Linked DNA regions of Homo sapiens: all the other regions are linked to region 3. Evidence: fine-mapped expression QTL. A gene starts in region 3. Each other region holds a variant in brackets. All regions are shown on one strand. Distances are from middle to middle.

Region 1 (4,069 bases), 44 kb before region 3:
CCGACGATCCCAGTTGTTCACACAGGGTTGTTATATGAACAAATACAAACATATTGTGTTTAAGCTATTCTATATTTTTGAAGTTTCATAGCCACAGCAATTACTGTTCCCCTAAATGATACCATATCTAAGTGTGAACTTGACCCCATATTTCCTTGAGTGGTTAAGAAATGGACTGTGGAGCCACGCTGCTGGAGTTCACATCTCAGCTTCTTACTTCTGTAGTGTGACCTTGGGAAAATTACTTACCTTGTGTGGCACAATTTCTTCGCCTATAAAATGAAGACTAATAATCATCTCTATTAAAAAGTGTTGTTACAAAGATTAAATTAGGTAATGCATGAAAAACTTTTATAATAGTTCCTGGCACACAGTAAGTGGCCACTAGCTAATAACTATAATTATTATCATTATTCTAAGGTTTCTTCCAGTTAAAATTTGTTTATGATTTTATAAAATTTCTACACCACTATTTAAAAGAACATGGTAGTTCTCTTGCCTTTGTTTCATGGTTTTCTCTTTTACATCCCCTCCCCAACAGCGCCCTTTTCAAAAGAGAATCTATACAGTCATTTGTAGGACACACCCCTTTTTATTACATTATGGTAATATCAGAGTAAAGTTGTGTAATTCATAAGTACCCACTCTCAAGTTACTTCCATTTATCATAGTTAACACAACAATCTGACTTTCATAATTATCTAAAACTTCATTTACTTTGTCCCCTAATCCTTCACTAGAGGACTAAAAAAAATAAAAAGTGAATTTTTTCCTTGAGGGGGACGTCCTATATATTTGGATTCTTCTAATGTAATCCCTATTTCCAGGTCAAAACTGTTCTCTTCATGACCACTCTAACCTTGGCTAAGGAAATGGCTCCACACTTAGAAGAGCTCTCTATGCTTGCCTCTCTTTTTTCTAGCATGTCTTGAGAAAAATGTTCAGTGGGGGATTTTCTACTTCTTTGCATCCCTTTCCCTCTCTTGAATCCAAGGGCCTTAAGCTTTTTCTACTTATCCATTATGTTCAATGTTCTTATTTACTCTCTCAGCGTTTTTTTTATGTTTTTAGACTCCTGCCTCCTCATATGGGCTACTTCTATTCCAGAGTGGAGATATCCAACCCATCTGTATTTTACAGAGAGAGTTTTCAACCTGGAGGCAAGTATAACACAACATATAATACTTTTAAAAAGTCTCAGCCAGGCACAGTGGCTCAAACCTGTAATTCCAGCACTTTGGGAGGCCAAGACAGATGAATCACTTGAGGTCAGGAGTTTGAAACTAGTCTGATCAACATGGCAAAACCCCACCTCTCCCAAAAATACAAAAATTGGCCAGGTGTGGTGGTGCACACCTATAGTCCCAGCTACTCGGGAGGCTGAGGCATGAGAATCACTTGAGCCTGAGAGCCAGAGGTTGCAATTAGCCAAGATAGTGCCACTGCACTCCAGCCTGGGCGACAGAAAAAGACTGTCTCAAAAAAATAAATAAATAAAAACAGATAAAGTATTTCTCACTTATATTTTGTT[A/G]TATTATTACAATTTGTAGAGATGTGGACTCACTATTTTGTCCAGGCAGGTCTCGAACTTCTGTCCTCAAATGATCCTCCTGCCTCAGCCTCCCAAGGTGTTGGGATTACAGGCATGAGCCACCATGCCCAGCCCATATGTTACTATTCATGAGTTGGTTCCTTCCCTTTGTTTGAACAGTCAAACTGGTTAGCAGTAAAATGATGGAGAATCTATTTCTGTTACTACTCAGAACATTTGAAGCAGGAAAAATGTGATGACAATTCTAGGTCAATAGCTTTAAAAACATTAGTTTTAAAAGAACAAAAATTACCTCTGTTGTGAGAGGGAAATTAGTGCAGCAAAAAGAATAAGGACACAAATAATCATGCTACACGTCTGATTCTGCAAAAGGGGTGACCAAAATTTCCAAAAGAACTTAGCACTTGTTGTGCCCTCTGGTTCCTTCCTAGCCCCTCTTGATGTCATGCTTCTGATTTGGCTTTGAATCCAGATTTAGCAACCTTTTCCACTTATTAACCATGTCATTTTCTTTCAACCATTCTTTGTAAAATGTGAGGAGTGTCTACTTCTCTAGGTTGCGAGGAGGATAAAAAATGACTGTGTGTTTAGAATATTCTAACAGCTAATCTGTCACATGATAAGTACTCAATAATGCAGCATGTTGGTTCTCTCCATTTTCCTGATCTTCATCCGTTTGTAGATAATTAAAACGATGAGTCAATGGAGCACAGTGGTGCATGCCTGTAATCCCAGCGCTTTTGGAGGCCAAGGCAGGTGGATTGCTTGAGCTCAGGAGTTCAAGACTAGCCTGGGCAACATAGTGAAAACCCTGCCTCTACTAAAAATATAAAAATTAGCTGTGGGTGGTGGTGCATGCCTGTAATCCTAGCTACTTGGGAGGCTGAGGTAGGAGGATTGATGACCAGGACGTCGAAGCTGCAGTGAGCCAAGATTGCACCACTGCATTCTAGCCTGGGCAACAGGGGCCCTGTTCTCAGAAAAAAACAAAACAAAACGAAAAAAAAAAAACCTAAGACACGGCTAGGAATGATCAAAAAAGATAGAGCATATCTTAGTATAAGTAAGAAAATTAAACTATTCTTGCCATTTGTTTGTGAGGATCATAAAACAGGAGACATGCCTACCATATGAGAAAATGGACTGCTTGCAGGTATCTGCTTTGATAAGTGCAGAGCTTTTGTTAGGAAATCAAATCCCACATTAATGGGCTTGCCCTCTTTCTAGGTCACATAGGGAAGTATAGAATTGGGCCATGGAAGTTTTTCTATTCTTTTAAATTATTGAAAATTTGTGCATTTATCTTTCAAAGACAAAACAGAATATACTAAGAAATGCCAGACAAGTAGAAAATAAATGGTACTGCAAGATTTTTTCTCTGTATTGACAACTGAACGGAAATTGAAATAAAACAGGGAGGTAGACAGTTTAGCCAAATGATATGAGCATGATTAATGTTCTAAGCGATGTCTAACCAAGTCAAAGCATGTATTTTACTATTTGTTAACACCCCCAGGACCCTTGGTCCAGTTAGTTTTGACACATTCCAGCCAAAATCCTTAAAAATAAACAAAATCCCATGGCCTGAGCTAGAAACAACATATTTAGGAGTTTTTAGTTTTGTGTTACTATATGGTAAAAAAAGAGTTAGGTAAGCAATAAGGTAAAGGAGTTAATCACTTATTTCTTTGTATATTTTATACCAATCTTTATCCCTAAGTTTACTTATAGAGATATATATAAAATGGAATCATACAGTTATGTTACTGAAAATAGCCTCAAAATCTACAGTAGAAGTTCTAAATCAATTAGTATCCAACCTGCTCATGTAGCTAATGCCTTTCATTGTCCACCCACTCTAGTATCTAATAATCCAAATGGTGATAAATAAAGAAAAGTAGGTAATTTTTTTTATCCATGAGACTGTCTTTTTCAATTCCATTAATATCAATAAATATGTATTGCATTCTCATCATGTACAAGACAATAGTATTAGGTTCTACATTTCATTTATTCAAATCAACCATAGTGCTAGTGAGACCAAGTTTGTAAAATCAAGCTCTCTAATGGTAGAGCTAATATATGTCTATTAGCTGATCACAGAGTGCTTTTCTAATTCTGGAACTGAAAATTAAAGGCAGTCATTCCTTAGAGAAAAAGAAGGCCAAGCAAGGGATTATGGCTCCATCAGATAATATCATTAAGTTATCTCCTTACCACACCTGATAGAGAAATTCAGATTGCTAATTAGCTGCCTATAATGCTGAGCTTTTTAAAGCTTCAGGAGATGAAAAAATGCTTCTGATTGATTATTACATTCTGACAGTGGCCCATGTGGCAGAAACTAGGCACTTCATTTCTAACATTTAAAAAGCAGTTGCTATTCTATTGTCTTGTGCTGAGCCATCTTACTTATTCTTATGCTGATACTTCATAAATCTTGCATCCTTCCTTGGAGCTTTCCCTTACAAAAATCACATATAAATACTTTTCAAAAAATAAAAGTGTCTCCTGTTG
Region 2 (4,069 bases), 110 kb before region 3:
TGGCTCCACCACATGCTGGTCATAGAGCCCTAAGGCCTTGAGTGAACATAGGTGGTAGCCATGTAGTGGTTACAGCAGGCCATGGATGACATCCAGTGCTGTACTGGCTTCAGGTCTAAATCAGCACAGTCCTGGTGGTTGTGGCCACAGGAATGCCTGAGTCTACCCACACCTAGTTCCAGGCAGCTCAGAACAGAGAGAGAGAGAGAGAGAGAAAGAAAGACACTCTGTTTTTTGGGGAGAAAGTAAAGGAAAAAAACAAGAGTATCTACCTGGTAATTCAGAGAACTCATCTAGATCTTATTCAAGACTACTAAGGCAGTATTTCTACAAGTTTCTAAGAACCACAGCATTGTTGGATGGGCCAAGTTCCTTCAAATACCTGGAAAGCCTTCCTAAAAATGCAAGCCCAGATTGCAAAACGACAATAAATGCCTAACTCTTTAATGATGCCCAGACACTGATGAACATCTACAAACATCAAGACCATCCAGGAAAAGGAGGGGCCAAGATGGCTGACTAGAAACAGCTATGGTCAGAGGTGCCTACCAAGAAGAATGAAAACAGTGAATGAATCCTGCAGCAACTAAGGTATCCAGGTTCTCTCACTGAGACTGACTTTGCAGTTGGCAAGACCCATGGAGAGTGAGGAAAAGCAGGGCGGAGTAACAGCACACCCAGGAGCTGCACAGTGCAAGGGGAGCTCCCACTCCCAGCCAAGGGAGGTAGTGAGTGATTGTGCTACCCCACCTGGGAAACCACACTTTTTCCATGCATCCATGCAACCCACAAATCAGGAGATCCCCTTGTAAGCCCACAGAGCTGTGAAGATTCTCAGTGGCTGCTTAGCTGGAGACTGCCTAAGACTACCGAGTTCCTGGAGGGAAGGGCAGCCACTATCACTGCAGCTGCCTGCTGCCTGCTGCCTAAGATGACTGAGCTCCCAGAGGGAGGGATGGCTACTATCACTGAAGCTCCAGTCTACCATTCTCACCTGCTGGTAATGGGGAGACTGGGTGGTTTGGACCAAAGAGGAATTCCCCACAATGCAGCACAGCGGCTGTGGCAGATCATGGAGAGACTGTCTCTTTAGGCCAGACCCGTACTCATCGCTCCTCACCAGGTAGAGCCTCCCTGTGGGAATTTCAGCAACCCCATCCAGGGGTTTACAAAGAGAATGCTGATCTCCCTGGGATGGAGCCCCTGGGGGCAAGGGTGGCCACAGTCTCCATGGATCAGCGAACTTGGTCTTTTCCCTTCTTGACTCTGAGGAATCTGGGCAGTCCAGATGAATGGGATTCCCCCCAGCACAGCACACCCTTTCACAAAGAGGCAGCCAGAGTGCTTTGTTAAGCAGGTTCCTGATCCTGTGCCTCCCAGCTGGGTGAGACTCCCCAACAGGGGTCACCAAAAACATTATACAGGACTGTTCCTGCTGGCATCAGGTCAGTGCCCCTCTGGGATGAAACCACTGCTCAAGGAAATCAGAGAGGACAAAAAACAAATAAAAAAAATTCCATGCTCATGAATAAGAAGAATCAATATCGTGAAAATGGTCATACTGCCCAGAGTAATTTATAGATTCAATGCTGTTCTCATTAAATACCATTGACATTCTTCACAAAATTAGACAAAACTACTTTTAAGTTCATATGGAACCAAAAGAGAGCCCATATAGCCAAGACAATCCTAAGGAAAAAGGACAAAGCTGGAGACATCATGCTATCTGACTTCAAACTATACTGCAAGGCTGTGGTAACTAAAACAGCATCATACTGGTATAAAAACAGACACATAGAACAATGGAACACCAATGGAACAGAGTAGAGAACTTAGAAATCAGACCCCCCATCTACAACCATCTGACCTTCAACAAACCTGACAGAAACAGCAATGGGGAAAAGACTCCATATTTAACAAATGATGCTGGGAGAATGGCCATATGCAGAAAATTGAAACTGGACCCCTTTCTTACACCTTACCCAAAAAGTAACTCAAGATGAATTAAAGACTTAAATGTAAAACCTAAAACTATAAAAACCCTAGAAGAAAATCTATGCAATACCATTCAGGACATAGACATGGGCAAAATTTCATGATGAAAAATGTCAAAAGCAATTGCAACAAATGCAAAAATTGACGTATGGGATCTAATTAAACTAAAGAGCTTCTGCACAGCAAAAGAAACTATCATCAGAGTGAACAACCTACAGAATGGGAGAAAATTTTTGCAATCTATCCATCTGACAAAGGTCTAGTATCCAGAATCTACAAAGAACTTCAACAAACTTGTAAGAAGAAAACAAACAACCTCATTAAAAAGTGAACAAAGGACATGATCAAACCCTTCTCAAAAGAAGACATTTAGGCAGCCAACAAACATATGAAAAAAAAGCTCAACATCACTGATCATTAGAGAAATGCAAATCAAAACCACAATGAAATATCATCTCATGCCAGTCAGAATGGTGATTATAAAAAGTCAAGAAACAACAGGTGCTGACGAGGCTGTGGAGAAATA[G/A]GTATACTTTTACAATGTTGGTGGGAATGTAAATTAGTTCAATCATTGTGGAAGACAGTGTGACAATTCCTCAAAGACCTAGAATAGTATATCTGGTGAAAATATCCTTCAAGCATGACGGAGAAACACAAACAAAAGCTGAGGAATTTTATCAACACTGGACCTGTCATACAAGAAATGCTAAAGGCAGTTCTTTAATCTGAAAGAAAATTACATTAATTGGAAATAAGAAATCATCCAAAGGTATAAAACTCACTGGCACACAGAAAACACACAATATTATATCACTGTACGTGTGTTGTGTGAACCACATTTATTTTGAGTAGAAAGGCTAAACAATGAGCCAATCAAAAATAATAACTACAACAACTTTTTATGACGAAGACAAAGACAGTAGAATAACACATAAAGAGAAACAACAAAAAGTTAAAAAGCAGGGGGATGAAGTTAAAATGTAGAATTTTTATTGGTTTTCTTTTTGCTTGTTTGTTTGTTTATGCAATCAGCGTTGTCATCAGTTTTAAATAATGGGTTATAAGAGAGTAATTGCAAGCCTCACAGTAACCTCACATCAAAAACACAACAAATACAAAAAAAATTAAAAAGCAAGGAATTAAATTATACCACCACATTCACTTTTACTAAAAAAAGACAGGAAGGAAGAAAAGACCATAAAACAACCAGAAAAAGAAATAACAAAATGGCAGGATAAGTCTTTGCTCATCAATAACAACATTGAATGCAAATGGGCTAACTTTTCAATTGAAAGGCACGAGGGGCTGAATGGATGAAAAAGCAAGACCCAATGTTCTATTGCCTACAAGTAAAACATATCACCTATAAAGATACACATAGACTGAAAATAAAGGAATGGAAAAAGGTATTCCATGGCAATGGAAACCAAAAAAGAGCAGGAGTAGCTCTTCTTATACCAGACAAAACAGATTTCAAGACAATAATTGTAAGATACAAAGAAGATCATTATATAATGATAAAAAGGTCAATTCAGCAAGAGGATATAACAACTGTAAACATATATACACCTAATGTTGGAGAACTCAGATACATAAAGCAAATATTATTAGAGCTAAAGAGAGATATAGACCTAAACTAATAATAGCTAGAGACTTCAACACCTCCCTTTCAGCATTGGGAAGACCTTTCAGACTGAAAATCAACAAGGAAAAATCGAATTCCATCTGCATTATAGAACAAATGGCTCTAACAGATATTTACAGAACATTTAAGACAATGGTTACAGAATACATATTCTTTTCCTTTGCACATAGATCATTCTCAAGGATAGATCACATGTTAGGTCACAAAACAAGTCTTAAAACATTCAAAACAATTCAAATAATATCAGGCATTTTTCCTGACCACAATGGAATAAAACCAGAAATCAATACAAGAGGAATTTTGCAAACTATGCAAACACATGGAAATTAAACAACGTGCTTCTAAGTGACCAGTGGGTCAATGAAGAAATTAACAAGGAAATTGAAAAAATTTCTTGAAACAAATTATAATGGAAACGTAACATACCAA
Region 3 (4,069 bases):
GATGAAGTTTTTCCTCTGAAGAACAGTTCCGTTTAACGACACCAGGATTTGCAATGACTCGAGGACGCCCTCTATTGATAGGAAAATCTAGAGCACCCGTGTACTTATGGAACAGGATATAGGGGGAGGGGAGTAAAAAATCATAGAAAGTCACGAGTGGAAAGACCCAAACCAAACAGAAATTATTGATCCTTAACTATTGAGTATATGCTTTGAAGTATGATCAATAAAGTGAGATGCTGCTTTTATAGGGGTCGAATTAAATCTTGGGTTAAGAGAAAAAAATGTAGTCTTTGTTAGCCAAATACTTTGAAAATCAGTATTATGTTTGATTACTTTTTTAAGATGCTTCTTAGTATGTCATGAACTGTATCTAATTATATGAAGTAATTGCAAGATAGTAAATTTTTGCTCTAATAATACTTAGTCCGCAGCATTATCTAAAAATGTCATATAACTTCCTCCCCAAAAGTCATTTCTCCAGGCAACTGTGAAGCTATTATTAAGCGTATTATGGATATACACAGGCTTGGATTATATTGTGGATAGTGAAAGGTGTGTTTACCCCTTAAGTCATCATAGTATGTAACAAGTAAGTAATGAAAAGTTACAGTAAAAACAGATAGGCATCCTTCATTAGGGACCTAGTGGTTTGGGCAATTCAAAATGTGTCTAATAAGTGAGCTGGTGAGACTGAAGGTTTGCCCCTCAATTATCCTAGTCCATTGATTAGCTCATTTAAACATGTGTGGAATATCAGCATGTCCGTGGTTGATAAGAAATTCCTAATTAGAGATTCTGAGTAACATAGCGGGTACAGTTGCCAACTACGATTTGGATGTTAGTGGATTTTAAATGGCAACCCTGTGCTGTTTGGGGAAAGGCAAAGGCGAGGGCGGTATCAAGTGTCTCTCAGCCTTGAGGTCATTCTTGAGATTAGATACCACTTCACACCTACCGATAACAAATTGGAATCTATCATCAGTCTCATAACTGCTTTTCTGTCTCCACTTGGCAGCCTCTTTCTTTGTAGACAATTGTCTTTTTCCTCACTTTCGGACCCATCCGATCATAAAAGGAGAAAGTGAGCTGCCATTGAATTAATCCGTAGAAATTTGTGGAAAATTTAAATAATCTGTAGAAATTTGTGAAAAAGCCACTGAGCAACAACAAATCGTGGCATAATTACACTGCATAAAAACCCACCACTCTCATTAATTACACTGTAACCGAACGTTGAAGTTTGCCCACTCTTAGACCTCTCCTTGCCGCTTTCAGGAAGGGAAATGTCAAACTAGAACACCTGAGCCTCGCACAGCTGCCAGCGAATTCCGGCGGCAGTTCGCGGGTACCTTCCCAGCCCATCCTATCTGCTCCGGACCGCGGGTGACATTCAGATTTCCAACACCGCCCCGAGCTTGCTTTACCAGACACCCTCAAACGACTCGGAACGCGGTTCCGCAGATGTGATTGGCTGAAAGGGGACCTGCCGCGCGGCGCTCTGTAAAAGCGCCTGCTTCCTCCAAGGAGGTGGAGCTGAAGCTGGCAGGGCCAGGGCAGGGAGGGGTAATTAAATTAAAAAAAAAACTTGGAGGGAAGATGAATCGGATCACATTAATTCAAGGAGAGGTCAAAGGCCGGTACCTTTGTAACGCCGGCGAGAGTAAGACTTGCGGTCGCCCATTTCTGTTGGGCGCGAGGAAACAGTAAATCGCGGAAGGGGGTAGAGGGGGAAGGAAAGGGAGCGCGAGGCAGCATGCGGCGCAGGAGAGAGGACTTGGAGTCGATGGACAGGGAACTCGAATTACACTGAGCGGGCGGGGGAGAGGGCCCTCTGGGTCCTGCGATTGGCAGGCTGAGTCGGGCTGACGTGCGGTCACAACCAATGGGGAGGAAGGGAGGGACACGGCGGGGGATTATGGCGTCGTGGATTGGCGGGCACAGGGCGGGGCGGGACGGCAGTGCGGGACTGAGATTGATCGACCGCGGGGGCTGCCGCGCAGAGATATCCGGGCCGCCGGTGGGTGGTCGCTAGGGCTGGGCCAGCCTCTTGGAGGTCCACGCCCGCCGAGCCCACGCTGGCTGGGGCCGGGGTGCCGGCGCGCTCGGGACTCGTCTCAGCAGTCGCTCACGGTCTTTGTGTCTTCTCTTCCGCCCCTTTCCCTGCCTGCCGCCTCCGGCCGCCACGATGCCCCTGCGCCCCGCTGCTGCCGCCGCGGACTGGCTGCGCCGGCTGCGCGCTGCTTGCTGCGGCGGTGGTGGCGCCCCATCTGCTACACGGGCCTGAAGAAGGAAGAAGAGGAAGCGAAGCGCGCCCCCCGGCCCATGCCGCAGCCACGGGCCCAGACCCGCCACGGCGCCCGCGCCGCCGCCCTCGCCGGAGCCCACGAGACCTGCATGGACGGGCATGGGCTTGAGAGCAGCACCTTCCAGCGCCGCCGCTGCCGCCGCCGAGGTTGAGCAGCGCCGCAGCCCCGGGCTCTGCCCCCCGCCGCTGGAGCTGCTGCTGCTGCTGCTGTTCAGCCTCGGGCTGCTCCACGCAGGTAGGACGGGAGCGCGCGAGGGGAGCCAGCCCCGGGGCCTAGGGCTTTGTTCCCAAATAGCCCCAGGTCTCGAAGGCGCTCGCCGGGGCGGAAGGGCGGCGTGGCGCAACGGGAAAGGCCTCCCGAGCCCCTGACACGCACCTCTGTCGGGCTCCGGGCCACAGTAACGCAGCCACCCACCGGGCGGCCGCCGGGCGCAGAGACGAGCCTTCTCTCCACCCTCCCCGCCTTCGGCTCGGACCGCTGACAAATCTCCCCTCCGACAGCCGCTTATCAAACATTTAGCGGGCGGGGGCCGCGCGCCCGAGACAAATGTTCCGGATGCTTTATTGCTCTCTGCGCTGGTGTTTACTGAAAGTCAGGCTCGGATCAGGTTTCCGCCGTCGCAGCCGCCTCGGAGGGAGACAAGGAGCCTTGTGCTGCTTTTCTGGAGTTGGGGGTGGCGGCGAGGCGAAGGAAGTACACCAGATGGAAAGATTTTTACCAGATTTTGCAAACCTGGGAGTTAATCTCGAAGTAACGTCAACTTTTTTGAGCAGGGATTTCTTTCGTTTTGGCAAAAGCTGCGTTTGTTCAGCGATCAGCCTCCCGGGAAAAGCTCGTGTTTTGTGACTAGCCGGGTGTCTTCGGGCTCCGTGAGGGGTTGACAGATAACCATGCTGCCTTCTGGAGGTCGGCGCTTCCCCAGCCTTGAGGCGTATGTTCCAAGGGAAGTAAGCCTGCAAATGAGCCTTCTACCATGTGATACCTATTTTTCTTTTTAAAAAATCGTTTCATGAAAATCCAGGACGCTCTTCACACTATTTTTTTCTAGGAATTTGCCTAGACAAAGAATTTTTTTTAATGCTAAGGTTGAAAGGGTCATTTTCCTTTAGTCTTGAGAACAAACAGCATTAGATAAGTTTCTTTTCCTTCCAGACCTTTTTTGTCCTGTATATATGAGACACTTCACAACGTTCTGGTCTGGAGAATCCTGAACTTCGATGCCACCCAACTGTGCGGAGTAATTTTTACTTATTAAACCATACCCGCCATGCTAAAAATCAGGGAGGTCTTTTAAGTAATGGGGGGGAAAATGTGACATCTGAGGAGACTTAATTTACTTTGCGTAGCTTTGCATTATGATGTAATAGCTGCTTTTTAACACCGACAATTAGGGAAAAGACGGCTTAATAAAAAAGTGTAATAGAAAGTTTTAGGATGATTACGGCTTTCAATTAGTAACCTAAGAACCTTAGAAAATAGTGTCAATCTGCATGTAGTTACGTGGAAAATTTTTCTTGACATGTTAAAAGATATATTCAGGAGTGTTTGTGCGAAAAATATGTGTCCATAATACCAAAATGTAAGTTTCATGAAATGGAAATTGTGCTAGGTGGGATTGTGTCCCCCTTGGCTGCTTGGATATTGTTTCCCATAGTTGCCATAGGATCCTGTGACAGAATTGGAATGTGGTCCCTGAAGGTTTCTTTGCTAGCCCGTGAAAGGCATACTAAGTTGGCTTAAAGGTTTAGAAAAGTAGGGTG
Region 4 (4,069 bases), 270 kb before region 3:
CTGCAGTGAGAACATGCTCTGATTCCTATTGTGATTGCTGTGTCTTTCATTCTGAAGCAGCATAACTTAGAGGATATAAGCCTGACCTCCAGAATCAGAAAGTGTGACTTCAATTCCTGACCTGTTCTGTGGCCTTGAGCAAGGTATTTAATCTTTCTGGGCCTCAATTACTTCATGCATAAAATGGGGATAATAATAGCATCTATTTCATAGGGTTGTTGTGAGGATTAAATTAGTAATTACATGTAAAACTTAGAGCACATTGCCTGGAACATAATAAGCTCTACATGAGGTATGATAAAGAAATACAGTTTCTTCCAAGAATACAAATGCTTGATCTTCCATTGATTTGAATGAAATACCAGCCATAAATTCTATGAACAAACATAGTTTGGAAAGCCAGAAACAGGTGAAAATGTAAAAACTGAAAATACGTAATAAATTCCCAAGTGCCGTTCTCAATATGTGACTTAGACGATAAACTATCTTCAGCATTGCCCTGAAGAGTCTTTCATAATTCTAGTATTCTGTCTCTCTCTCTCATTTTCAGTAGCTGTAAACTGTTACTTCAAACCTTCACTATTATACTTCATTTGCATAAATATCTCCAGAGTTAATTCCTTGACAAAGTTTCCTGGGAAATGGCTGAAGACAAGACCATATTTACAACCAGGAGGCAAGTACCAAGCAGTCCAATCTGTGGAGTGTTTTATTCCCTTGCAAACACACCGCCTTGGTCAGTCAGAACTTGTCCTCTGTTCTTATCTGTTTTCCCTTAACATTGACCGCCCTCACCAACTGCAAAAAGAACACCTTGAAGAGATTAATTATTAATTTCAAAAAAGTCACTTCAAACACTTCAAAAGTCAACATAGAAGGGGGAAAACCCCCAATAACTGATTGTACAGTCACACAACATTTTATTTATTCTTTTCTTCAGTCTTGGAAACCAAAATGTCAATTCAATTTTATGACATCGGAGACATAAATGGATATGAGTTTAAGATGTGCTGGTGTTAAAATATTTATTGCTTAAATCTGACAGTCATATTTATAGTCTTATCTCCAAAGACCTGTGAAGTGTATATTATTAAATGGAATCTATATAGAGACATTTTGTTCCCAGAATATATAATTCGCCTATTGAGTTTCTTTGCACATACCTGTTTTAAGCTAAAGAATTTCAATGGCTTCTGGATATTCAACTATTTTTTTAATTCCTGTGGAAATCAGCACACAATAAATCACTACAATTGACGGTTTGGGCATTTCACAGAGGTGAATCTCTAGCACTACCTATGGAACTGAAGATTTTCAACACAAGATACCAAACCTGTTAGAAATTATGTTTTCCATTTTTTCAAACAAAATTTCAGGTCACTTTGGCCCACATGCTCCTTCAAGTAGCTGTAAAAATGATTTAAAGATTATAAGCTAAAAATATGTATAGTTTGGGCATTTGGAATCTTTCCAAGTGCCAAAGAATTTTGTGTTTAACAAATATTTTAACTCCTTAAAATATACAAGATATTACCCTAGCCTCCGTTAAAGCAAGCTAATAAAAATAGCTAACATTTAGAAGGTGCTCACTTTGTGCAGGGCACTATTCTAAGTACATTCCATGGAATAACTCATTTAATTTGCCCCGTAACTCTATGAACAACATGATATTAATTCCCCATTTAAAATATAAGAAAGCAAAACCCAGAGACAAGAATAATTCACATATCTTGTAAAGGTAAAATCGGGACACAAAAACAGAATGTGACTCTAAAACAGCCTTCTCCAAAGGAAATAGCCTTGGATTTGGCCCTTGAGGATCTTTCAGTAGAGTGGAAGAAAGGAAGAGAAAAGAATAAAATAGATAAGTCATCATAGAGTAAGCATAAAATGTAGAAGGAGAAGAGTTTTAAGGAGTTGAAATAAAGGAGGAAGTACCCCCATTTTCATCAAAACTGAAAAGTTTGATTAAGGAAAGTGGCATATTAATTGGCATATTAGAGATGGTTTATATTTAAGGAGTTGGAGCTGGTTCAAGGCATTCTCAGTAGACGGAAAAGTAAAAGAAGAGGCACAGAGA[C/CAG]GGTACCGTGAGGCACGTTGCAGGGAAGAGCAAGTAGTTCATTTTAGTAAAGCATGGGATACAGAAAGAGCAGCAGTGGTCTAGGTAAATCTGAAAAATAAAATGAGCTTTAAAATTTTTCAAAAATATTAAATGCTAGATCAAAGAGTTTTGGAACTTAGCAATAGGGAAGTTTAAAGAATTTTTGAATGAGTAAAATGATTGAAGCATCGTTGGGAAAATATTTATCTAGCGTTGGCATTTCATTAAATTTATCATCTATTTGACTCCTATTTCCAAACATTTAAGATTAAATGTCTATACTAAAACAGAAAATAAAAATGAGAAAAATGGAGGTGAGATGTACTTTTAGTAAGACTGTAGTAAGACCAAGGAAGAGCCAGTTATTATAATGGCTATCAAGTTAAAACTAAGTGAGTGGTTTGCAGGATGGACTGGGCAGAGGAGAGCTCATGGTCATTGGTTCCATTCCTTAGCCACACTTTAGAATCACCAGGGCCTCTTTCAATATCTCAACACTCAGAACCCATCCCAGACCAATTACATCAGAATCTCTGAGATTCCAACTCAGATGTCAATATTTTTTAAAGCTCCCAGAGAGATTTTATTGTGCTGCCAAGATTGAGAACTATTTTTCTAGCAAGTTAAGTGATGAAGATTTGGCCTTCAGGGCTGATAGTAAGAATGGAAAAGAGGGAAGAAATCTGAAAAATAATATGAAGGAAAAAATCAATATCTCTTCTTGAAAGTGCTGAGAGAATTGTTCCCACAGCTCAACTCATTTTAAAAACATCCTTTTTCACATGAGATTAGACAAGTTTGGAAATTTGGCATTCTTAATCAGAACACAGGTCTCCACTGATACCAAGGGAAAATAATTGCATGGGATGGGAGAAGATGTCACTTATGTGGCAGGCCTCACTCTCCTCATTTTACTTTACAATTATGAACACCTTTCCTATCTTCTTAATGACACATTTTAAGAACATCAATGCAACAAAACATAGCAAAGAACTCACTAAAGATTCCCTGAGATGATAAACTAACATTATGATTTCATGGTATAATCTTTTGTGGAGAAAAAGGAATGCTTCTACACTGTTGGCAGGAGTGTAAATTAGTTCAACCATTGTGGAAGACAGTGTGGTGATTCCTCAAAGATCTAGAGGCAGAAATACCATTTGACCCAGCAATCCCATTGCTGGGTATATACACAAAGGAATATAAAACCTTCTATTATAAAGATACATGCATGTGTATGTTAATTGCTGCACTATTCACAATAGCAAAGACATAGAATTAACCTAAATGCCCATCAATATAGACTGTATAAAGAAAATGTGATCTATATACACCATGGAATACTATGCAGCCATAAAAAGGAATGAGATCATGTCTTTTACAAGGACATGGATGGAGCTGGAAGCCATTATCCTCAGCAAACTAACACAGGAACAGAAAACCAAACACCACATTTCTCACTTATAAGTGGGAGCTGGACAATGAGAACACATGGACACATGGAGGGGAATAACATACACTGGGGCCTATTGGTGGTGTTGGGGGAGGGGGAGCATCAGGAAGAATGGTTAATGGACGCTGGACTTAATACCTAAGTGATGGGATGATATGTGCAGCAAACCACCATGACGCACATTTACCTCTGTAACAAACCTGCGCATCCTGCACATGTACCCTGGAACTTAAAATAAAAGTTACAAAAAAAAGTATAAATAAAGAAATAAAATAAGTAAAAACCCCTTATGAAGTTGTTTCTGGCATTTCAACAGGTTGAACATCAAATTCTAGATCCATTGGTTGTGCTCATTTCTCTGATCACAGAATTAATTATTTTGATACCTTTCTTTAAATAACAGCATCATCAAAAGCTGCATATTTTGGCAATCACTTATAGATTCAATTATTGGTTACCTTTGATTGAACGAGTAACCAGAATGACAACAGCCAAGGTTGTTTTGTTCCTATTGC
Region 5 (4,069 bases), 73 kb before region 3:
GCTTTGAGTCAAGACTTCTTCCTCCTCCTGATTCTTTCTTTATTGAAAAAAAGATCAACAGGAAAGACATTAGGTCCTGTCACTTGAAACTTAGCATTTATTATTCCCTAATTTTGCACTCCACCTCTCCTGTCTTGACTACTTCTGTAACTGACTTGACTGATGACCAGAAATGAAGTGTAAGCAAATTCTACTGGAAGAATAATATAGCCAAGGTTCAGAGAGAGAGCAGAGTGTTATTTGGAAACCACTCTGTTCCATTCATGACAGCATGAAAATTAATCATTAATGAGCTATTCTTTTATTTGCAAAGATGATGCCACTGATTCAAGACCAGGCATTACCTCTGAATTAGTTTTTTGTAAGTAGGGAATGACTGTACAGAATCTTTCACAATATTGCTCATTCCTTTATTATCAGCAAGTTACTATCAGCAAGTTGCAGTTTGGCTGCCTAGGATAAGTGAAGTCTGTAACTATATACCAGTACATTAAGAATCTTTATTTTTAATGTAAAGATGGCTTTAATAAAGTACTTGAAGGAAGCAGTTAAGATTAAGGTAGATTCACTGCCAGGAGGAAGCAAGTAGGAGACCATTGGAAGGAATATTAACAATTATTAAGGCAGAACAATCATATGTAGGACTTGAAAATAAATGGCCACAACCCAGACACTACAATTACATTGTTCTGATGGGTGCCAAGACTCTAAATTTTAACAATTCAAATGAAGGTGGGTTCTGAGATAACATTCTAAGAAACAGTGGTTAAAGGATGAGTAAAGAAAAAAGGAAGACACTGATGTTCACATTTTTGTTTTTATTTTGTCTGCATGCAATTCTTGACCACTGATAGTCTCTATTGATTGCCAAGCACTAAAGATAGTAAATAAATAAACTTGGAATATATGCATAAACATCAACTGACTTTGATTTGTAAATTTAAGCAAAAAAACTATAATTATTTAATTTCTTTGTCTTTTCTTTGAAATACCAGTTTTGCATTACAATTATGTTCTCAAAATATGGTATATTAAAGCATATTGACATTTAAGGGACTTAAATTGTTTAATAACATGATCATTTCCAAATACCATCTCTTACCTGTACTACCTTTGATTTATAATCACCACAGAGCAGCCAAAGTGACTGTAGCAAGCTTTCATTAGGGTGCCACCAAAATATCTTGTTCTTTGGATGAGAATAAATTATAAGCTTTGCCAATATTGTGTTGTACATGGAGAAGTGGATTTCATAGGCTAAGCAATGAGACTGTCATGTTTTCTCAAAAATTGGGAGACTGTATACACATGAGACAGCGAAAGGGATAACTATATGGGCAAAAGTTTATTGCATAGAAGATATCTAAGGTTCTCTCTCCTCCAAAATCCTTTGATCGTAAACCTCCATGAATGGAAGATATAACCAAAGAAACTCTAACTCTTTCAGTACAACATCTGAGAGTAATTCACCCTTAGAATTCTAATTCAGAAAACATAGTGGCATAATATATTAAAGTGAGGGTATTTCAAGATCTTAATCATGGTTTGCCAAAACATAAATGAGTATACATATCAAAAGTTATTTTCAGCAGTTAGCAAAAAGACATTATTTGGCCAGTGAAATGAAATCAAGACACTCAAGCCAACCATTTTGTTTCTCCCCAAAATTCCAACTTGCCCAATGCCTGAAGACAAGCTGACAAACCTCAATTTGTAGAAAAAGATTGATCAGGAAGGT[C/T]CCTGTCCCTGTAGGTGAGATATATAGAAAGAGATATCTCCTAAGCAACCCTAGGTAATAATGTCTGCTTTTCCATATCTCAAAGGATTGATCAAAATGAATGAAGTATTAGCACTGTTTTTTTTTTTTTTTTTTTGAGATGTCTTGCTCAGTTTCCCAGGCTGGAGTGCAGTGGCACAATCTCGGCTCACTGCAATCTCTGCCTCCCAGGTTCAAGTGATTCTCCTGCCTCAGCCTCCCGAGTAGCTGGGACTAAAGATGTGTGCCACCATTCCCAGCTAATTTTTTTTTTTTTTGTATTTTTAGTAGAGAGGGGGTTTCACCATGTTAGATAGGATGGTCTCGATCTCCTGACCTTGTGATATGCCTGCCTCGGCCTCCCAAAGTGCTGGGATTACAGGTGTGAGCCACCATACCACCAGTATTAGCACTTTAAACACTTGTGTTATTGTTACATGGCCTTTATTTAAATGTGTAAAATGCCTAAAGCCTTTTTCTAAAACTAACTCCCAAAAAGTACATTCTTCGTAAGCAATAAAATGCAGATTGTTGTTGTTGTTTGGTTTTGAAGGGGAAAATGGTGAATAGGAGGCAGGACTAACTTGCAGCTCCCACTCTGACAGACACAGCAGCATGTGGAGACCACATCATGAACTTTTGCTCCAAGAACTACTGCAGAAACATACCAGGAAAGCCAAGAGAATCCACAGACCCTTTGAAGGAGGCAGATTGCTTCTTCAGGCCTATGGGACAACCAAAGAATTGCAAGCCTGCTTGCTTTCCCAGCTGGGAAGCTTGCAGCCTGGGGAAAGTTCTCAGCCATGCTCACTGGCTTCCTGGAAATAAACTTGGTGCTGCTGGTGGTGTGTGGTGGGAGTGAGACCAACATGTCAGGCTGTGGGCTGTATGGGGGCTGGGTGAGGCCTGTGGCTGCCAACTTTCCCCCACTTCCTTGGAAACCCGTGTGACACAACAGAGGCAGCCATGATCCCCCTGAGAACATGACTCAGTTAGCCTGGTAACCACACCTCCATTCCCCACAGCAGCTGCAGGAGAGCCTATACCCAAGGCGAGTCTGAGCTCACCTAACCCTGCTCACACCTCATGGTCTTTCTCTACCTGCCCTGGTAGCTGAAGACAAGGGACATAATCTCTTGGGGGCTCTATGGCCCCACCCACCACCTGATTCTCCCTATACTACCACAGCTGATGTACTCTTGAAAATGCCACCTCCTAGCTGGAGGCCAACCAACACAAAATCAGCACACTTAACAAAAATGCAACCAAGGACCCTCACAGAGTCTGCTTCACTCCCCTGCTACCTTCATTGAAGCAGGGGCTGGTATCCATGACTGAGAGACCTGAAGATGAATCATATCACAGGACATCTTGCAGACACTGCCCAGTACCAGTCTGGAGCCCCATAGCTCCACTGAGTGGCCAGATCCAGAAAAGAAATAACAATCTCTGCAGTTTGGCCCTCAGGAAGCCCCATCCCTAGAGGGAATGGGAGAGCACCACATCAAAGGAACACCCATGGGACAAAAGAATCTGAACAGCAGCTTTGGAGCCCCAGATCTTCCCTCTGACAAAGTCTACCCAAATGATAAGGAACCAGAAAAACAATTCTAGTAATATGACAAATCTAGCTACTTAACTCCCCTAAAAGATCACACTAATTCACCAGCAATAGATCCAAACCAAGAAACCTCTGAATTGCCAGAAAAAGAATTCAGAAGGTCGACTATTAAGCCAATCAAGGAGGCACCAAAGAAAGGTGAAGTTCAACCTAAAGAAATTTTTAAAAAAATGATACAGGATATAAATGGAAAAATCTCCAGTGAAATAGATAGCATAAATAAAAAACAATCACAACTTTTAGAAATAAAGGACACAAAGAATTGTATTGGAAAGTGCACTGGAAAGTCTCAGCAATAGGATCAAACAAGTAGAAGAAAGGACTTCAGAGCTCAAAGACAAGACTTTAAAATTAACCCAATGCCACAAAGACAAAGAAAAAAGAATTTTAAAAAATGAACAAAGCCTCCAATGAGTTTGGGATCATGTTAAACAACCAAATCTAAGAATAATTGGTGTTCCCGAGGAAGAAGAGAAATCTAAAAGTTTGGAAAATATATTTGAGGGAATAATCGATGAAAACTTCCCTGGTCTTGCTAGAGATCTAGACCTCCAAATACAAGAAGCTCAAAGAACACCTGGGAAATTCATCACAAAAAGATCATCACCTAGGCACATAGTCATCAGGTTATCTAAAGTCAAGACAAAGGAAAGAATTTTAAGAGCTGTGAGGCAAAAGCATCAGGTAACCTA
Region 6 (4,069 bases), 100 kb after region 3:
TACTAAAACCAAGTTGAAGCGATTGTCTTATAACACCTTACCGCCTAATTTCTGCATCACTAAATCCTTTAATATTCTCCCGAGGAATAGTCCGTGGTCTTCCACGTTTCTTTGGCCTTTTCCCTTCTGAGATGGAATCACTATCAGATCCAGAGTATCTCCTACTTCTACTGCGCCTCCCTTCACTTCCATTGAAACTAATCTGGAATTGGAAAATATTTACCCAACCTTAGTGTAAAAACAGCTTGTATCTTAAGAGCAAAAACCATTATAAAAGATGGTCGGAATCTTAAAAATGTTATTAAATGTATCAAAAACATTCCATAAACAAAATTAAAGAGCAAACAGAGAAAAATATATACCTCTGGTGGATATTTTGATTTAAAAGGTAATCAGACATTATATCAAAAGCCTCCAAAAGTTATTCTACTGACGCAGCAACATAACCTCTAGGCATTTTTCCTGAGGAGATCAGAACTGTGAAGAAACATTGATCAATAAAGTAATTTACATCATAAAAGAAAAATGTGGCTGAGTGCAGCAGCTCATGCCTGTAATCCCAGCATGACTGGGAGGCCAAGGCAGGAAGATAACTTGAGCCCAGGAGTTCAAGACCAGCTTAGGCAACATAGTGAGACCTTGTCTCTACCAAAAATTTAAAATATTAGCCAGGTATTTTTGTAGCATGCACCCGTAGTTCCAGCTACATGAGAGGCTGAGGTGGGAGGATCATTTGACCCCAGGAAGCTGAGGCTGCAGTGAGCCATGACCATACCATGGCATTTCAGCCTGAGCAACACAGTGAGATCCTGTCTCAAAAACAAAAAGCAAATAATCTAAATATTCATCAAAGAGAGACCAGACAAATCTATACGATAGAATGCTGAGACACCATTAAAAATGGGGTTGTAGAATAATTAACATTCATGACATACTGTCAAAAAGAAGAAAAAGTTCCAAATTAATACAACTCCAACTTAATTTGGCAAATGATAATGAATTTTTAAAAATTAGAATGATGTACACTGTGATAATGTTATCAGTCCTATCTCTGGATGAACAGATTGATTAGCTGTCTTTTTTTCCGTTCTGCTTAATATCCACATATTGCTATTCTAACTAGACAAATCAGATATTTGAAAGAAAAAAATGCCAGTTGAACCCACATAAAAGGCTATTTGTAACATCCATTAATTTTAATAAGATACATCAAAACATATATTCTGTAAGTCTTGGGAGTTTTTCCAAAGCCTTGGCACATATTCCGAACCTCTAATATGCTGAAAGTTAAATGAAGTAAAAAATGGTATTTAGACCTTTTTTTTCTAACCTCCCTTGATCCTTTCACAAGATCTAATGCAATGCTGCATTCTCACACACTCTAAAACAAAACTACTTAGGGGTTTGGAGAAATAAACAGAAACAAGAAATAACATGCATGGTTACTTTCAGGCCAAAAGCATTATTTTTGGCTCTACTTCTGGCTGTTATGTAGAAACTTGGTAGGGGCACTGCTCCTACTCTAACAACAAATCTGATGTACAAAATCATAATTTTTCTGTTTAACATCAGAGAGATGAAATCACACGGCAACCTACACATCTAAATGTAAGGATATACAGGAGATTACAAAAAGAGAAAAAGAGGACTTGAACAGTGGCTCATTTGTGAAGAACACAGGTGACAGAAATCAAGTACCATACAAGCAGGTAAGAGGAGATCAGCTAAAATCTGCTAATGGCTGAGTGTACGCTATTGTGAGATCACAGGACCTAACAGCCAAAACTCGGAGGACCTGCACCCACTCTCAAGCACTTTGCCACGAACTTCCACCAGGTGCTCATGAGAAGGAAGACTGGAGAAAACTTTCCTCCATGGTACAGCCTTGGAGAAAGTGAGCAGTCACCTTTGTGGAAACAGGAAGGAAGCCTTGCCAGACCTTTCCCATCTGCTCAACTGAGGGAACAGAATAAGATCTAATACGGTTGCAAGAAAAGAAAAAACAAAAAGCTCTACCCTTCGGGGAATGGTAGCAGGGCAGGGACTAGAGTGGGGCAAGCCCCTCATTTGCCCCAGGCTTAAAATTTAAGGAAGCACGAAAAAACTCAGCAATCAAGACAAAAAATCTTATATCCTAAAAACCAAAGGATACTAGAAAAAGAAATTAGTCTTAGAATTTTTTTCCTTTTTGGCAATATAGCTTGGCATGGCACTATTACAGTTATTCAAAATTTTGGTATTTGTTTACTTAGGCCACTGAATAAACACCAACAAATTTTTAAAAATTAAAATTACATAAAATATGCTTTCTGAACATGACAGAATTAAACTACCAATGATTAACAAACATAGTTGAAAAATTTCCTAAATATCTGAACATTTTAAAACATACTTCTAAAAAAACCTGTGGGTCAAAGATAAGTCATATGGGAAATTTTAAAATGTTTTTAAATTAAGGAAAATATAAAAATAGATTTGGAAGATTCAG[A/G]AAAAGTAACGCTTAAAGAAAAATTTGTAGCATTAAATGCCGATATTAGAAAAGAGAGATTACATTTCTATATCTAAGCTTGCACCTTAAGAAACTGAATAAAAGAGGCCAGGTGCAGTGGCTCGTGCTATAGTCCCAACATTTTGGTAGGCCAAGGCAGATGGATCACTTAAGCCCAGAAGTTCCAGACCAGCCTGGACAACATGGTAAAACTCCATCTCTACAAAAAGAATACAAAAATCAGCTGGGTGTGGTGGGACACACCTGTAGTCCCAGCTATTTGGGAGGCTGAAGTGGGAGGATCATCTGAGGCCGGGAGGTTAAGGTTGCAGTGAGCCAGAATTGTGCCACTGCACTCCAGCCTTGGCAATAGAGCAAGATGCTGTCACCAAAGAAAAAAGAAAAGAAAAGAAAGAAAACAGCAAATTAAATCAAAAGCAGAAAGGAAGAAATAATAAATTGTGGAAACTCATGAAATTAAAAACACACACACACACAAAAATCAATGAAACCAGGAGCAGGTTCTTTGAAAAGATGAATAAAAGAGGAAGAAACACTTCTCAACTCATTTCATGAGGCAAACATTATCAAATCAAGGCCATTACAAGAAAAGAAAACTATGGACTGATACCTCGTAGAAACAAACAAAATCAGCCCAGGTTGAATACTCTTACTTTATAGAAATATCTTTAAAATTGCAAAATCACCTGTTTTGCACAATTTCTCATTCTTGGGAGCATATAAATTTCTTCAAGTTCCTTTTGTCTTTCTTCTTCTTCTAATCGTCTTCTTTGATCTTCTGGAATAATTTCCTCCCAATTCTTTGAATTTCTTTCAGGTTCCAACTCAATGTCATCCTCATCCATATTTGAGAAGTTGGCAACCTGATAAATTTCAGAATTTTAAGAGTAACTGTTACAGAAAAATTGATCCCTAAAAGTTTTTTTTAAGGGGAAGAACTGGCATGCTCCTTAGGATAATGAACATGGCTGTGGACTAAACCAAATATAACTTCTAAACAACCTAGATTCATTTCTTCATTAGGGCAAAGCAGATCAAACCAAATGACATCTAATAATCCTCTAGGAATGATTTTATTTTGCCCTACTGCTCAACAAAATTAGTAGCATCACAGAACTAAGAGCAGTTAACAGAACAACAAAAAAGTAATTTATACTATTAACATGCTAAATAATCTGCAGAAATTCTCAGACCAGTCCACCTATCAAGTATTGTAGAACAATCTAATATCATTTTTATGGTCACAAAAACACTATCTAAAGAGCTACTGGCAGAGACATAGAGCTCTTTGAGAGCACACTAATTTCTGTGAGGATTACATAAGATAGCACATTTAAGGTACTATGCAAGGTCTGGTATACAGAAAGCACCCATTAAGGCTAACTATCACAGCCGGGCGAAGTGGCTCACGCCTGTGATTCCAGAAACCTTCACCTCTTAACCAGGATTACTCAACATTCTGTCTTATCTCCCCCTGCTATAGCTCTTTCCTCACTACAGTCAATCAACCACAAAGTAGTCAGAATGATTCATTAAAATTATAAAAGTTTTTTATTCACT
Region 7 (4,069 bases), 22 kb after region 3:
TTTTATATATTAAATATTTATGTGTGTGCTTGGTTGATATGTATAGTACATATACACAGACATCCATATGCAGCGTTTCCTTTGAAGGTGACCAGTTGTTTGTAGCTATTCTTGGCTGTACCTTCCTGCCCTTTCCCATTGCTACTGATTTGCCACGGTGTGCAGCTTTTACTCGCCACCTTCCGGTGGAGCTGCCTCGTTCCTTTGAACTATGCCCTCACCCTTCTGCCCTCACTTGATTTGAAAGGGTCGTTAACTCTCCCTTACAGGTGCTTTGACTCTTAAACGCTGATCTTAAGAAGCTCTCTTCATCTAAGAGCTGTTACTTTTTCAGAAGGGGGGGTATTATTGGTATTCTGATTACTCTCAATTCTAATTGTTATATATTTGAGCCCATACAGTGTATTAGGTTGAACCATAGAAACTGCTATTCTCGTAGGTCAAAAGGGTCTAGTGATGGAAGTTTTGTAGATAAGTACCAGGCATCTCAGTAACTCCTAGACTTTTTCTCATCCCATGCCCCGTTTTAAATTGTCAGTTTTCCCTCTGACTCTTCTGTGTTAAAACATGAAACTATAAATTTAGTAATTATCATGCCTTGCTCTTTTTAATCTATATGACTGATGCAAGCCCCTCTTCTTAACCGTTTCTTGGCTTTGAGCCCAGAAACACAGCTCTCCCTGTCTCCAACTCCAGTAAGCCCTCCTCAGCCTCACCTTACGAATCCAAAGAACTGGGGTTTGTTAGGTTCTTTCTCTAATGTAGAGGCCCAGATCCCATCACAAAGTTTTTCATTCTTCCTTGTCCACCATGATCTTCATCACAGTCTTTGATATGTCTGCATGCAAAGTGGAACAGAGTTGGGCGGCAATGACAGAAGAGCTTCCTTGGCCTGACTCGGTGTGCGGCCACTTCGGCACTGCTTAATCCAGATATTCTTGTTAACTAAGCATTGTGCTTCCCAGGTGGTCTGAAGTCAGGTACTCTCTCTCTCAACACCTGTAGTTGAATATGATTTGGTCAGTTGCTCGTTGTAACTTGGAGAAATTCCTATAAAGTAAGATCTCCTTGCCTCTTCCATCCATTGTTGGCACCCCCTTGCAAAAGGAAAAGAACAGCAAAAGTCAGGAGCAGTAATCTGAGAAAGTTAACTCCAGGATAGGTAGGTTTCTATTGTTATAGCTAGATGTAAATCTTTAGTTCCAAGAAGTGATAGAGTTTCTGCTTTAATAATTTGTTGATAAGTTTACATAAACAGAAATAAAAGATACTATCTTTACCGTAGTAGTTCAGGCCAAGATTATGCTTAGTTTTAGTTCTCCAGGTAGTTACTTTTGCCATGTCCTATTGATCAGTGACACTGCCAGAGGCCCATACCGGCAAGAGGAAGAGGACGTCATTTTGTAAAGTTTAACTTCTTAGCGAACTGATGTGCCACCCAGTCACAGAGTGGAGTTGTGAATTCATGTAGAGGTGGCAAACCTCTACCTTGTGTTGATGAGAGAATAATCTTGGGCAGTCTGGGAAAATAAGGAAGGCATCTCCTTCTTACTCATGGAGATTCAACTATAGAGAGTTGAAACCTAAACCCGCCTTCCTTTTATAGAAGCTGGACTAGAGACGGACTGACCATCAGCTCTGAACTGTGGCTTTTTTTGTTCACCTATGATGCCATGTACCAAATTCAGAAGCTATCGTTAATAATTTGTTTTATAATTGAGTAGTACAAGCGAGGAAAAAATACGGAGGATAACCACTATTTTTGTGCAAATAATATGAAAGTGAAGTAAAAGCAATAGAAGAAATTTCTATAGGATCTGGGTTTAGAGTGTGTATCATTAATAAATATACCTTTGCTCTTTTCAGGGAAAATAACAACCACCCTTACTGATAGTTGGGAAAAGAAGATTGGGTTATTTTGCCATATCATTTAGCTGGAAGTGACATTTAAAAGCACCCTGCATCACTAGTAATAGTGTATTTTGCTATTCTGCCCTTGTAATCGGTGTCCCTGTAAAACAATCCCCACAGATTACTTTCAGAAATAGATGTATTTCTCTACGTAAGGGCCAGGTTTATTTTCTCCTTTTTTGAGATTTCTAGAAAAAATGCTGCTTGCACATGTTGGTTCTTGAAACCTTAGCTAGAAGAATTTCAGGTCATACCAACATGTGGATAGGCTATAGCTGTTCAGAGGTCTCCTGGGGGAGCTTAAAACGGGGGAAACACTGGTTTTCACAGATGCTCCACATGGCTGTCTTTAAAAGACTCAAAACTTTTTTTTGTCCTCTTTGTTATGCTTGGAAGCTCCCCCCCCCCC[A/C]ACAGTGTGTCGAGTCTTTGCAAAGAAACCTTTAGATGTGGTTCATAGATATATGAATACGTATCTGTGTAAAACAGTGAGTGTGCAGTGTGTAAATACTTTAAATTATTATGCTAGAAAAATAAAGTTACATACCTTGCTGTGGAATGTCTGTTCTGTGATTATAGGGACACCTGCTGGAAGAACTGAGAGCTGCAGAAGAAAGGGAGTCGGGGGAGGGGGAATTGTATAAAATCCCTAAAGGTTACTGATAAGTCATGCCACCTGCCCACAAATTCGCTGATTTTCAAAACTATAGCATTACTGTCATTTTTTTTCTTTTGAAATTTTAAGCAGTTACAAATCCGTATCAGTGAGATTGGTCCACTAGTATTGTCCCAAAGTTCTGTCTTTAGTAACAGTTTTGGTCCCTTGAAGACATACAGCCTGCACTCTAGTTCTTTTTAAGGTGATGTGAACAGTAACGACTTCCTCCTGGTGGGGAGGATTTGGGAAGGCAGGATTTTCTGGCTTTGAAAACAAATCCTCACTTCTTGGGTTTTAAAAAGAGACATCAAGAGATCACAAGTTGGTCTTTGTTCAAGAAACACACCAAAGGGTAGAAAAGTTAGGAAAATAACTGAAACAAAAGGCACAGAGAAGCACTGTTACTTGTATTAGGTAGAATACTAAATGGATCAGATTCTGACTGGGATAAACATACATGTAATCATTTCTTCTTTTTTTTTTTTTTTCTTTTGGAGACAGGGTCTCACTCTGTCACCCAGGCCAGAGTGCAGTGGTGCAGTCTCAGCTCACTACAGCCTCAACTTCCAGGGTTCAAGTGATCCCCCCGAGTCGCTGGGGCTACAAGTGCATGCTACCATCCCCAGCTAATTTTTGTATTTTTTGTAGAGACTGAAGGCAGGGTTTCACCATGTTGCCCAGGCTGGTCTCAGACTCCTGGACTCAAGCAATCCGCCTGCTTCAGCCTCCCAAAGTGCTGGGATTACAGGCATGAGCCACCACACCTGGCCATAATCGTTTCTTAAAGAAAAAAGCTTAACCATTGCAGTTGACTATTTACATGTAGCAGTTCAGAGCAAAAAAAAAAAAAAAAAGACAATCATATCAGCTGAACCACATAAAATAGGATGAAATGACATAGTCACTGAGTACCCAGTGATGTGTCTGTGCTGAAAGAATGCAGATAATCTATAGCAGAACGAAATGTGCTATAGACTATTTGACTTTTATGCTTAAAGTCAAAAATAATTCTTTACCATTCTGTCTTCATTCCCAGAACTCCAGCTCTTTGGGGACTGAAACGTCAACTCCAAAATCCCAACAGCGACATCAACCCTAAGAGTCCTGTTATCTGATTTATTTTTTATCTTGTTTATTTTTAATTTTGTAGCATTGGCAGTATTCTATTGTCTGGAACTAGCTGGGATAACAGTCTTGGATTGCTGCTGTCCTTTCTGAGCAAAGATACCTTGCTGCAGATTTTCTCCCTGTTCTATTTGTATGTGAACCAATGTCTCCCCCACAGAGAAAGTAATCAGGATGTTCAAGGAGCAGTTTCAAAGTTCTTTATTATTTCACTACCTAACCATATTGTTACCTAAACCTAAACCATATTGTTTCTTTCTGCTTCTATCCCTTTTCTGTATGTCTTCCAAATGGACAAGTCACATGAAAGCAATTGTTATTATTTAGATGGTATTTTCCTTTAAATTTACTGCTCTTTGGCTGGGCACAGTGGCTCAT

Direction of the effects. Alleles are on the strand shown, and positions count from the first base shown. SD is a standard deviation of normalised expression in the study named. Not every link is listed here.
For the expression in monocytes after LPS of the gene that starts at base 2,000 in region 3, T is the high allele of the variant in region 5 and C is the other (large effect, 2.2 SD a copy in Fairfax 2014).
As copies of A replace C in region 7, the expression in B cells of the gene that starts at base 2,000 in region 3 goes up (large effect, 0.88 SD a copy in Fairfax 2012).

The links.
Region 1: its variant is fine-mapped to the expression of RGMB in whole blood (INTERVAL, PIP above 0.99).
Region 2: its variant is fine-mapped to the expression of RGMB in whole blood (INTERVAL, PIP above 0.99).
Region 4: its variant is fine-mapped to the expression of RGMB in whole blood (INTERVAL, PIP above 0.99).
Region 5: its variant is fine-mapped to the expression of RGMB in monocytes after LPS (Fairfax 2014, PIP 0.95).
Region 6: its variant is fine-mapped to the expression of RGMB in whole blood (INTERVAL, PIP above 0.99).
Region 7: its variant is fine-mapped to the expression of RGMB in B cells (Fairfax 2012, PIP 0.95).

The regions. Positions count from the first base shown.
Region 1 is chr5:98,728,004-98,732,072 of GRCh38, forward strand. No RefSeq gene overlaps it. Among named protein-coding and RNA genes, the nearest start is that of RGMB-AS1, 43 kb to the right of the region's middle. The variant A/G (reference allele first, on the strand shown) is at 1,532.
Region 2 is chr5:98,663,708-98,667,776 of GRCh38, forward strand. No RefSeq gene overlaps it. Among named protein-coding and RNA genes, the nearest start is that of RGMB-AS1, 110 kb to the right of the region's middle. The variant G/A (reference allele first, on the strand shown) is at 2,522.
Region 3 is chr5:98,771,664-98,775,732 of GRCh38, forward strand. It overlaps RGMB (repulsive guidance molecule BMP co-receptor b), which reads left to right and starts at 2,000. Exons shown (of 3, transcript NM_001366508.1): 1 at 2,000-2,543. The coding sequence starts at 2,408. RGMB-AS1 (RGMB antisense RNA 1) reads right to left here and starts at 1,421. Exons shown (of 2, transcript NR_033932.1): 1 at 959-1,421. RefSeq lists enhancers at 1,577-1,626, 2,362-2,861, 3,117-3,236 and a silencer at 1,847-2,476.
Region 4 is chr5:98,503,942-98,508,010 of GRCh38, forward strand. No RefSeq gene overlaps it. Among named protein-coding and RNA genes, the nearest start is that of RGMB-AS1, 270 kb to the right of the region's middle. The variant C/CAG (reference allele first, on the strand shown) is at 2,081.
Region 5 is chr5:98,698,211-98,702,279 of GRCh38, forward strand. No RefSeq gene overlaps it. Among named protein-coding and RNA genes, the nearest start is that of RGMB-AS1, 73 kb to the right of the region's middle. The variant C/T (reference allele first, on the strand shown) is at 1,739.
Region 6 is chr5:98,876,357-98,880,425 of GRCh38, forward strand. CHD1 (chromodomain helicase DNA binding protein 1) reads right to left here. Exons shown (of 36, transcript NM_001270.4): 23 at 3,196-3,372; 24 at 42-202. Among named protein-coding and RNA genes, the nearest start is that of CHD1-DT, 50 kb to the right of the region's middle. The variant A/G (reference allele first, on the strand shown) is at 2,489.
Region 7 is chr5:98,794,028-98,798,096 of GRCh38, forward strand. RGMB (repulsive guidance molecule BMP co-receptor b) reads left to right here. Exons shown (of 3, transcript NM_001366508.1): 3 at 1-2,467. Among named protein-coding and RNA genes, the nearest start is that of RGMB, 22 kb to the left of the region's middle. The variant A/C (reference allele first, on the strand shown) is at 2,321.